2 separate regions of the Homo sapiens genome follow, and region 1 is linked to region 2. Evidence: fine-mapped expression QTL. A gene starts in region 2. The other region holds a variant in brackets. All regions are shown on one strand. Distances are from middle to middle.

Evidence for each region. PIP is the estimated chance that this variant, and not a neighbour inherited with it, causes the effect. A credible set is the group of variants that fine-mapping cannot tell apart.
Region 1: its variant is the best candidate, but not a certain one, in a credible set for the expression of NME2 in whole blood (INTERVAL, PIP 0.70).

What each region holds. Positions count from the first base shown.
Region 1 is chr17:51,248,031-51,253,551 of GRCh38, forward strand. All of the region lies in intron 2 of MBTD1 (mbt domain containing 1), which reads right to left. Among named protein-coding and RNA genes, the nearest start is that of MBTD1, 9.3 kb to the right of the region's middle. The variant G/C (reference allele first, on the strand shown) is at 3,236.
Region 2 is chr17:51,163,576-51,168,575 of GRCh38, forward strand. NME2 (NME/NM23 nucleoside diphosphate kinase 2) reads left to right here and starts at 2,836. Exons shown (of 5, transcript NM_002512.4): 1 at 2,836-2,922; 2 at 3,252-3,381; 3 at 4,667-4,768. The coding sequence starts at 3,256. It overlaps NME1-NME2 (NME1-NME2 readthrough), which reads left to right. Exons shown (of 9, transcript NR_037149.2): 6 at 3,252-3,381; 7 at 4,667-4,768. RefSeq lists silencers at 2,677-3,306, 3,567-3,766 and an enhancer at 2,789-3,397.

The DNA.
Region 1 (5,521 bases), 85 kb after region 2:
TATTAAAATAGTTCTCAATTTCCTCTGTATCCAATGTTATTTTCCCGTTGTTATTTCTTAAAATTTCATGTGTGCTTTCTCCCTTTCCCCACTTGGTTAAATTAGCTAGTGATTCATCTATTATGTGACTCTTCCCTCAAGGGTCCAAGATTGGTTCATCAACTAGACGTATAGTTCTTCTGTTAACTCATTAACTTCTACTTTTATCTTTATTTCCTTCCTTGTGCTTTTGGCTTACTTTGTTCATTTCTGAATTGGGAATTTATTTTCATTTATGTAAGTGTTTAGGGCTATGAATTTTCCTCTGCTCACTGCTTTAAATGTATTCCACAGATTCTGGTATGTAGTATTATGTAGTACTTTTCTTATCATCATTTTCCAGAAACTTTGCAATTTGTGTTTCCCTTTTACCCATTAAACTTTTAAAAATTAAGGCATACTGTTGAACACTTATCAAAATATAGGACTTTTCTGTCACTCTAGAAAGCTCCTTCCTGTCCTTTCCCACTCAATCTCTCCCCAGTCCTGAGTTCTATTAGCTTTGGCTAAATTTTGTATATATTTAAGATTTTATATAAATGGCATAAAATCGTATGCATATTTTTGTGTCTAATTTCTTCCAGTCAGCATAGTGTTTCTGAGATTCATTCATGTTACATGTATAAATGGTTTCTTTTTATTGCTGAGTAATACTCGTCAATGTATCAGCTTACCCTTTCTTCATCCAGATTTTACTATGAATAAAGCTGCCACGAAAATTCTTGTACAAGGTTTTCTGTGAATACATAATACAAGGTTTCTTAACTTCAAGACGGAAGTGCAATGTCCTTTTGCTTTTTGAATTTGTTTTTGTTTTCTTGTATGGGACCTACTAATGTTTTTCTAATAGATTGACAATTTTTTGTGAATATTCTGTGTTTAAAAAGAACATACTCTCTGGCCCCGCATGGTGGCTCACACCTATAATCCCAGCACTATGGGAGGCCAAGGCAGGAAGACTGCTTGAGCCCAAGAGTTTGAGACTAGCCTGGGCAACATGGCGAGACTTCGTCTCTACAATAAGCAAAAAAAAAAAAAAAATTAGCTGGGCATGGTGGTGTGCACCTGTGGTCTCAGCTACTTGGGAGGCTGAGGTGGGAGGATCACCTGAGGCAGGGAGGTCAAGGCTGCAGTGAGCCGTGATCATGCCACTGTACTGCAGCCTGGGAGACAGAGTTGGGGGTGGGGGGAAGCAGTATATTCTTGATTATTAGGGATATACTTGAAGATTCACATTATATTATTTAGATCTTTTATATCCTTTTTTACCCACTACATCTTGTGCTAAGTGTCAAAGTCCCCTAATTTTAGTTTTTTATTTCTTCTTATACTTCATATAGATTTTGCTTTATACAGATTGTTGCTGTGTTATGTGGTACATATTTAACTGTGAATTCTTTGTTGTGAATCATGGTTTTTAGCATTATAAACTGTTCTCTTTTGTCTGATTTAATGCTTTTTTTGGTTTGAATTCTACTTTGCTATCAGCATTTTCAGTCTTGTATTCTTGGGGTTTCTATTTGCCTGGTACATATTTGTCCTGGCCTTTATGTTTGCTCTCAATTCTCCACATATTTTATCATTAGGGTATGCATTATGTACTGTATACTTTTTTTTCTGTTCCATCATGGTTTTCTTTGTCCCTTTAAAAATTTCTCTCAGTATTTTGGAAAGTCTTCGTCACGCTTACCTTTATATTAATAGCTTTTACAGTACACTGTATTTTTTTTCTTACCTAATCTTTTCTATTTGGTCTTTCAGTTTTAGATGGTAGCCTCTGACTCCCTCATATTACTTCAATTACAGTAATTATTCTTATTCTAGTTCTGAAAAAGAACAGTTCTAGACAGGGTCTCATTCTGTTGCCCAGGCTGGAGTGCAGTTAGGCAAACACAGCTCTCTGCAGCCTTGACCTCCTGGGCTCAAATGATCCTCCTACTTCAGCCTCCTGAGTAGTTGGGACTACAGGCATGAGCCACCATGCCTGGCTAATTAAACACTTTTTTTTTTTTTTTTGTAGAGACTGGGTCTCACTATGTTGCCCAGGCTGGTCTAGAAGTCCTGGGCTCAAGTAATCCACCCACCTAAGCCTCCCAAAGTGCTGGGATTACAGGTGTGAGCCACCACACATGGCCTTAGTTTTTCCTTTTATTTTCCATCCCATTATATTTTAGTTGCATTCTTTCTGCTTTGTCAGAATGTATAATGTTTATGTACTATTCTCTAGGTCCCTACTATTGGTTTTAATCTTAGTTCAAAAAGATATCTGAAATACTTATTGTCACAGTCTTTTTGTAGGAAATGTCCCAAATATCTTTTAGATGAAAGTCATCCTTTTCGAGTGTCCTCAGGAGGGGTAAACGAGTACAGTATTCCCTGAGTTCCTGCATGTTCAAACTGTTGTTCTGCAGCCCTAATACCTGGACAACAGTTAGCTGGATATAAAATCCTTGGCTAGCAGTCACTTTCCTCATGCTGCTCCACTGTCTTGCTTTGTTATGTTGCTTTTGAGAAATCTGACACTGGTCTAATTCTCTTGCCTCTATGTCACGTCTTTGCCTGGAGACCCTGAGAATTCTTTGCATCTTTACAGTCATACAGCTTTACTAGGAAATATCTTTGAGTGTGCCTTCTGGTATGAACTTCTGTGGTATAGATTCAGATCTCTTTTCACTTCCAGAAAGTTTTCTTGGATTATAGTTTTAAATATTTTCTCTTCTTGAAGGACACCAATTATATACAGTAGACTTTGGATCCATCTCCCATTTCAACTTGGTCAATTTTCAAAACAAAAATCTCATCTCAATTATCCTGTTTTCCTGCTTTTCTTCAAGACTTTTTATTAAATTTGAATTTGAAATGTGGGAATGTTAAAACTTCATTATTGGTTATGATTTTATCTTCTATTTTTCTGTTTAATCTACTTTGTGTTCATTTCTTAATGCTTTTTGTTCTTTGTATTTGTTTCAGAATATTTCTTAATTTTATTTTTCAAATCTCCAAACATTGGTTTGAGGATGTTTAATTTCACTTGGAGCATTGTGTCAATTTTTTCCTGCTTTTTTTGATGGGGGTAGATTTTCATCAGTTGAAATGCTGATTCACATTTCCTGTTTGTTTTTTCTTACAGTTCTGTATGGATGTGGCCTGCTCTTTTCTATTTCTGTTCATTTCATAGGCAGAGCTCCTACTTCAA[G/C]AACACCCTCTTCTCTAAGTTCAGTTTTTTTCTTTTCCTGAAGAATTTTTTCTTCTTTCTTCTTCTTCACTGCCATGTTTCCAAGTCTTCACTGACATGTCTCCAAGTCTTCATGTTTCCCTTATGAGGCAATGCTTATAATTTAAAGCTACCAATTCTGGTACTGCTTACCTTTAAGCTCTTCTCCATACATAGAGCTGTGAACTATCAAACTCCAAACCTATGATCAATGTTTTGGAGCTTTTTTCAGATTTTCTCTTTCTGAGAGTGGATCTTTGTACCTTGTCTAAAGCTTTCACACTCCCATACCTCTTTCAGTAAATTTGTCAAGCCTTCCCTCTCTCACTCTTAACACCTAGAGGAATGATCATAAGGAGCAGTTGGAATTTGGTTTATTTCTCTACCTATAAGAATCTACAAATCTCTATTTATAGGCAGAGAAATAAACTAAATTTGTGAGTTGAACTCTTAAACACATTTCGTCCTATAGGAGTTTATTTGTAAATTCTACAATAACCTAATATTGGACTTGCTCTGTCATTCAAGCTGCAGTGCAGTGGCATGATCTTGGCTTATTGTAACCTCTGCCTCCCAGGTTCAAGCGATTCTCATGCCTCAGTCTCCCGAGAAGCTGGGATTACAGTGTGTGCCACAACACCTGGGTAATTTTTGTATTTTTGGTAGAGACAGGGTTTCGCCATGTTGGCCAGGCTGATCTCGAACTCCTGGCCTCAAGTGATTGGCCCACTTCGGCCTCCCAAAGTGTTGGGATTACAGGCATGAGCCACTGCACCCAACCATGTTGGACTATTTTTGTTACTGATCTGATTTGGTTATTATTATAATATTTGTAATATGCTTAGTATGTGTCAGGCATATTCAGCACTTAAATCTGTAGCAGCGCATTTAAACCTTATGAGTGTCACTCTCATTTTACAGGAGGAAGCAGTGGCCCAAATAGGCTAAGCAACTTGCCCAAGATCATATAACCACCATGAACACTAATAATATGAATCATGGGACTATCTTAAAACGTTTTAAATTTTAACCTTCTTTCTCCCCCCTCCCCAATACTGGTTCTGTCAGCTAGCCTCTGTAAGCATACAAAACAAGCATCAAATAAATATGTTTCAGGTAACGTGCCTTCATGAACATTTTGCTCTTCAAAATAAAACCGAGGCCAGGTGCAGTGGCTCACACCTGTAATCCTAGCACTTTGGGAGACCAAGGGTGGGTGGATTACTTGAGGAGTAATCCACCAGGAGTTCCAGACCAGCCTGGCCAATATGGTAAAACCCCATCTCTACTAAAAATACAAAAATCAGCCATGTGTGGTGGTGGCACCTGTAGTCCAGCTACCAGGGAGGCTGAGGCAGAAGAATCACTTGAACCCGGGAGGCGAAGGTTGCAGAGAGCCAAGATTGAGCTACTGCACTCCAGTCTGGGCGACAGAGTGAGACTCTGTCTCAAAAAAAAACAAAACAACAAAACAAAACCCCAAAAAACTGCAAATCATATTAGATGACTAAGGTCTTGAATGTAGGGAGATGGAATGATTGTAGGTAGGTAAACCTTGCTTTATATTTGGGTGTATGTTCTAACTCCCTGTCCACTATAAAGTCACTAATGTCTAAAATTCATATACTAAATAAATAATATAAGCCTAAGCTTTAGAATTAGAGAGATAGATACTAGATGAGAAAGCTAAAAGAATGAAAGCAGTTGTCTCATCAGAGCTGAATTGGGACAAGGACCATTTTTTTTGGAATACTTTTAGCATTGTTTAATTATTGTACTATCAAGTGCATGTATTACTTTGATAAAAATAAAAGCTAATTTATATGAAGTATACAGTACATTAAAAAATTAAGTTGGTATATATTGAGAGATTGATGATATCTGGTATCAGTAAATACATGTGGGAAAAACAGTGCTCATATACACTTGGTAGGAAGGTAACCTTACACTATCTTTCCGGAAGGCAATTTGACATTACATATGAAAACTTAAAATGGCTATGCCTTTTGACTAGGTAATTCCATTTTTAGGAATCTGTCCTTCAGAAATACTCATACATAATACATACAAGGACACAAGAACCTATGTAGAAGGATGTTTGCTAATGTAATAATAATGAAAAACTGGAGACAAACTTACAATCAGCAGGGGAATCATGAGCAACAGGTAAAATACTGAGTGGAAAAAATAAATCACAATATATAGTATAATAAAATATATCACAATATGACTCACTTTTTATTCAAAGAGACAATATACACTGGCATA
Region 2 (5,000 bases):
GCAGCCTCGACCTCTCTGGGCCCAAGTGATCTCCTATCTTAGCCTCCTGAGTAACTGGGGCTACAGGCACGTGCCACCACGCCCAACTAATTTTTGTATTTTCTGTAGAGATGGGGTTTCATCATGTTTCCCAGGCTGGTCTCCAACTGCTGGGCTCAAGCGATCTGCCTGCCTGGGCCTCCCAAAGTGCTGAGATTATAGGCGTGAGCCACTGCGCCCACCCTGAGGGTTTTTCTTTTTTCTTTTTCCTTTTTTTTTTGAGACAAAGTCTCGCTCTTGTCGCCCAGGCTGGAGTATAATGGTGCGATCTCGGCTAACTGCAACCTCCGCCTCCCGGGTTCAAGCGATTCTCCTGTCTCAGCCTCCTGAGTAGCTGGGATTACAGGTGTGTGCCACCACTCCCGGCTATTTTTTGTATTTTTAGTAGAGACAGGTTTTCACCATGTTGGCCAGGCTGGTCTCGAACTTCTCACCTCAGATGATCCACCTGCCTCAGGCTCCCAAAGTGCTGGGATTACAGGTGTGAGCCACTGCGACTGGCCACCTGAGGGTTTTTCTTATCTTTCCTTTTCATCTGGCTTCGGTAGAGGCAATAGAGGGGAAGAGACTTCTCAGGATGGGGGAGAAGAGGGTAGTTGGGGTGGGCTGCCTTTACAGACAGATGATGGCGAGATGAATTTTTTTTTTTAATTTAGTTTTTTTTTTTTTTTTTTTTTTTGAGACAGAGTCTTGCTCTGTCACCCAGGCGGGAATGCAGTGGTGCAATCTCGGCTCACTGCAAGCTCTGCCTCCCGGGTTCACGCCATTCTCCTGCCTCAGCCTCCTGAGTAGCTGGGACTACAGGTGCCCGCCACCATGCCCAGCTAATTTTTTTGTATTTTTAGTAGACATTGGGTTTCACTGTGTTAGCCAGGATGGTCTCGATCTCCTGACCTCGTGATCTGCCTGCCTTGGCCTCCCAAAGTGCTGGGATTACAGGTGTGAGCCACCGCACCTGGCCCCCTTTTTTTTTTTTTTTAATTTTTGAGATGGAATCTCAATCTGTTGCCCAGGCTGGAGTGCAGTGGCACGATCTCAGCTCACTGCAACCTCTGCTTCCGGGGTTCAAGCGATTCTCCTGCCTCAGCCTCCTGAGTAGCTGGGATTACAGGCATGCGCCACTACGCCCGGCTAATTTTTGTATTTTTCTTGGGGACGGGGTTTCACCACGTTGGTCAGGCTTGTCTCGAACTCCTGACCTCGTGATCCACCCGCCTCGGCCTCTCAAAGTGCTGGGATTACAGGCGTGAGCTACCGCATCCAGCCTGAATTTCTATTAATACTTTTACACAAAGCGTGGCCTGTTTGTTTTGGGGCGTGAGATGAGCATACCAGGACTTGGGGGAATGAACATGTGTGTAGTGAAGCTGGAGGGTTACAGCCTCCCCAGTTAAGGACAGTCTTCCCAGGAAGGAAAGAAGAGGTGAAAGCAGAGGGGTGGTCCTGACTGTACCCTGAGTAGCCATCAGTGACCTGACCAAGGGGAGCAGATAGCTCTCCCCTGGACAGAGAAAAGTCCGTGCAATTTCGAGACCTGTTTTCACAGTTGACATTTGGTAATCCAAATGAGAGTGTGTTTCAGATCGAAGCCAAAAAATAACAGTGCCCCCAGATGAGGGCACATGACAGTCATTGTCAATGTGTGGTGGGCTAATGCTCTGTAACTAGAAGTTTGGAAAGCCGATAAGGTATAACAGAGGCCAGATTGTCATCCATCTGGCCAGTGACAGGTGATCAGCGCAGTGCTAGGGGCACTCGGGTGATGGCATGATTGCTGTGGTCAGCTCAGAGTCCTGAGGGGAAGCAAGCGGGCTCTCACCATCTCAGGGCAGTACCACTGCTGTGCGGCTGTCAGTCAGTGCTGCAGGCGCCGAGAGGAGGGGCTTGTGACCGCCCCAGGGAAGCTGGGCATCACCAAAGGGAGCTTGTTTGCCAGGGACACTGCAAGTAGGAAGTGTCTACAGGTCGATGACAGGCCTAATCTCTATGACAGGGTCTAGACTTTCCTCAGGGTCCAGGGGCGCACCTCAGGGTGAACTGGAAAACTCGACCGCACTTTAGTGCCAGGTGGGCAGGGATCCCCATGTCAGGGTGGGAGTGGGGCGGCTGATTGGGGCTGGAAATGTAGGTGGGGAGGCGGCAGCCAGGGAGCAGGGCATCCTGCGAGAAGAGCATCCCGCTAAGGAGTCTGAACGCCATCCTGTAGGCGGGGGAGTCATCAAGGCAGGGCAGAGGCAGGACCAGATGGCCGTTTGAGGTGCTGAGCAAAGCTCCCGGTTTGCGCGGAGAGGTGAGATCGAGGCCCCTTGGGAGGCCGAGGCTTAACCAGGGCTCAAGCAGAGGGGAGGGAAGGCTGGATTTCAGAGGTAGGGAGGATAAGGACCGTGGGTGCACGACGGGGAGGGAGAGCCAAGTCAAGGTTAATGCCGGTGCTCGGGCGGATGGTGAAAGCAGCAGATGGCCTTGACCGGGGTAGAGAACTCGAGCACAGGAGCAGGTTCTGTGTGTGTGTGTGTGTGTGTGTGTGTGTAGGAGCTTTTGGGGTCACGGGAAGTACTGAGAGGTGAGGAGTGGGATTTGGGACGTGCGTAGTTGAACTCATAGGACGTCCAGGTGGAGAAGGAATCACTTCCTGTCTCTGGATCCGTCTCGATCTCTGCCTGGCGAGGGCGCGCCCCGGCTGGGCGTGGACACTGTTCTCCGGCCGCGTCGGGCCGGGCGGGTGGGGCGTTCCTGCGGGTTGGGCGGCTGGGCCCTCCGGGGTGTGGCCACCCCGCGCTCCGCCCTGCGCCCCTCCTCCGCCGCCGGCTCCCGGGTGTGGTGGTCGCACCAGCTCTCTGCTCTCCCAGCGCAGCGCCGCCGCCCGGCCCCTCCAGCTTCCCGGTAAGGCGGTGGGGGCGCATCCCCTGGCGACTCCTCCCGTTCCCTCTTCCGCTTGCGCTGCCGCAGGTGGGCCCGGTCTGTGGGCGCCCCCCGATTTCCCGCAGGTCCCGCGCGGCGTCGGAGCGGGAGATTCCCTTGCAGCTTGCGCCCCGCGGGCCTTCGGGCTCCGCAGAGGGACGCCGGCCCTGCGCGGGGCGGAAGCGGCCGGGAAGCCACGTGTCCCCGCGGCCGCGCGTGGTGGGGGAGGAGGGACCGGCGGCGCCCACGTGGCCTCCGCGGGCCCCGCCAGAGCCTGCGCCCGGGCCCTGACCGCACCTCTCGCCCCGCAGGACCATGGCCAACCTGGAGCGCACCTTCATCGCCATCAAGCCGGACGGCGTGCAGCGCGGCCTGGTGGGCGAGATCATCAAGCGCTTCGAGCAGAAGGGATTCCGCCTCGTGGCCATGAAGTTCCTCCGGGTAACTCGCCCCCGTCTCCCCTTCCCCGCTGCAGCCGGCTCGCGGGTGTTTTTCCCTCCCGGCGGCGGTTTGTCCGCGTCTGCTTTCCGAGTTCATTTCGCTGCCGCGAAATCCCTTTGCCCTCTGCCCCCGCCCACGGCGGCTTGGGCCCGCCGACCCTTTCCCGGGGTGGTGGGGACAGACGCCCTTGGGAAGGTGAAGCGCTGGTAGCGTGACTCGCCCTCCGGGTTTGGGTTCCTTCCCGCGGGCCGCTACCTGCCCACCCGCCGCAGGGGGGCAGCAGGGAGCGGAAAAACCCCGGGCCCCAGACCCCCTGCGCCTGCCCACTCGGGTCCACCTAGGCACAGAATGGAGGCTTGGAATCTCCTTTGCTTTAGTCTGAAACTCCGAGTTCCAGTGCGGTGCTCCTCCTTTAGCATAGGGTAGTGAGTGTATTTTCCACATTAAATTTGGGGCACAGATCTGAATCCCTACACTTACGGGTAAGAATCTAAGTACTGAAATTCAACCAGGCTCATCGGTGAAGAGAATGTTCTCAGTTATTATCTGAAATATTTAAAAGGGCATTGTGAGTAGCCCAGGGGAGTTTAACATGACCTCTGCCAGGCAGATGACCTGACATATGTACTTCAGTTGCAGCCAAAATTTAATTCCCTAAATCTAGATCCTCAAACCACCTACTTTTTAGGCTTACAAAACCCCTAATGTCATTGACGGTATGAGGGTGTCTTTACGATTAGAACAGTCTTGGCCAGGCGCGGGGCTCACGCCTATAATCCCAGCAATTTGGGAGGCCGAGGTGGGTGGAGCCCAGGAGTTGGAGATCAGCCTGAGCCACATAGCAAGCCCCTGTCTCTACAAATAAATAAATAAATAAATAAAAATTAATTGGGCATGGTTGAGTGCATCTGTAGTTCCAGCTACTTGGGAGGCTGAGGTAGGAAAATCACTTGAGCCCTGGAAGTTGAGGCTGCAGTGAGCCATCATTGTGCCACTGCATTCCAGCCTGGGTGATGATAGTGAGACCCTGTCTCCTAAAACAAACCAAAACAACACACCAAAAAAAGAACAGTCTTTCTGTTAAAATGGCATTAGTTTCATGGTTTGGATGGGATTTAAAAAATATTTATGTGTGTGTATATGTGTGTATATATATATATATTTCCACACACCACTTAGGAACGTGGGCTAGAATATAAAACCGGACTTGCTAATGGGAGGTTCAGAGGATGGGTTGGAGTCTTTCCAGCTTAGCTCCTAACTGGTGCCTCCTCTCCAATGCCAGGCCTCTGAAGAACACCTGAAGCAGCACTACATTGACCTGAAAGACCGACCATTCTTCCCTGGGCTGGTGAAGTACATGAACTCAGGGCCGGTTGTGGCCATGGTGAGTGCTCGTGGGGAATGAGAGAAAATGAGGAAAAAGTGCTCAGTGTTCTTTGTTAGACATCTCCCTCAGCTAATCTAAATTTTATTTTATGAATGGAACCTGCTGAAGTTACTTAACTGAGCAACTAGGAGCTTGGGAGGAGAAAGCAAATCAGACCTTAGAAATGGGAAGGATGTTAGCTGGGTGTGGTGGTGCACGGCTGTAATCTCAGCTACTTGGGAGGCTGAGG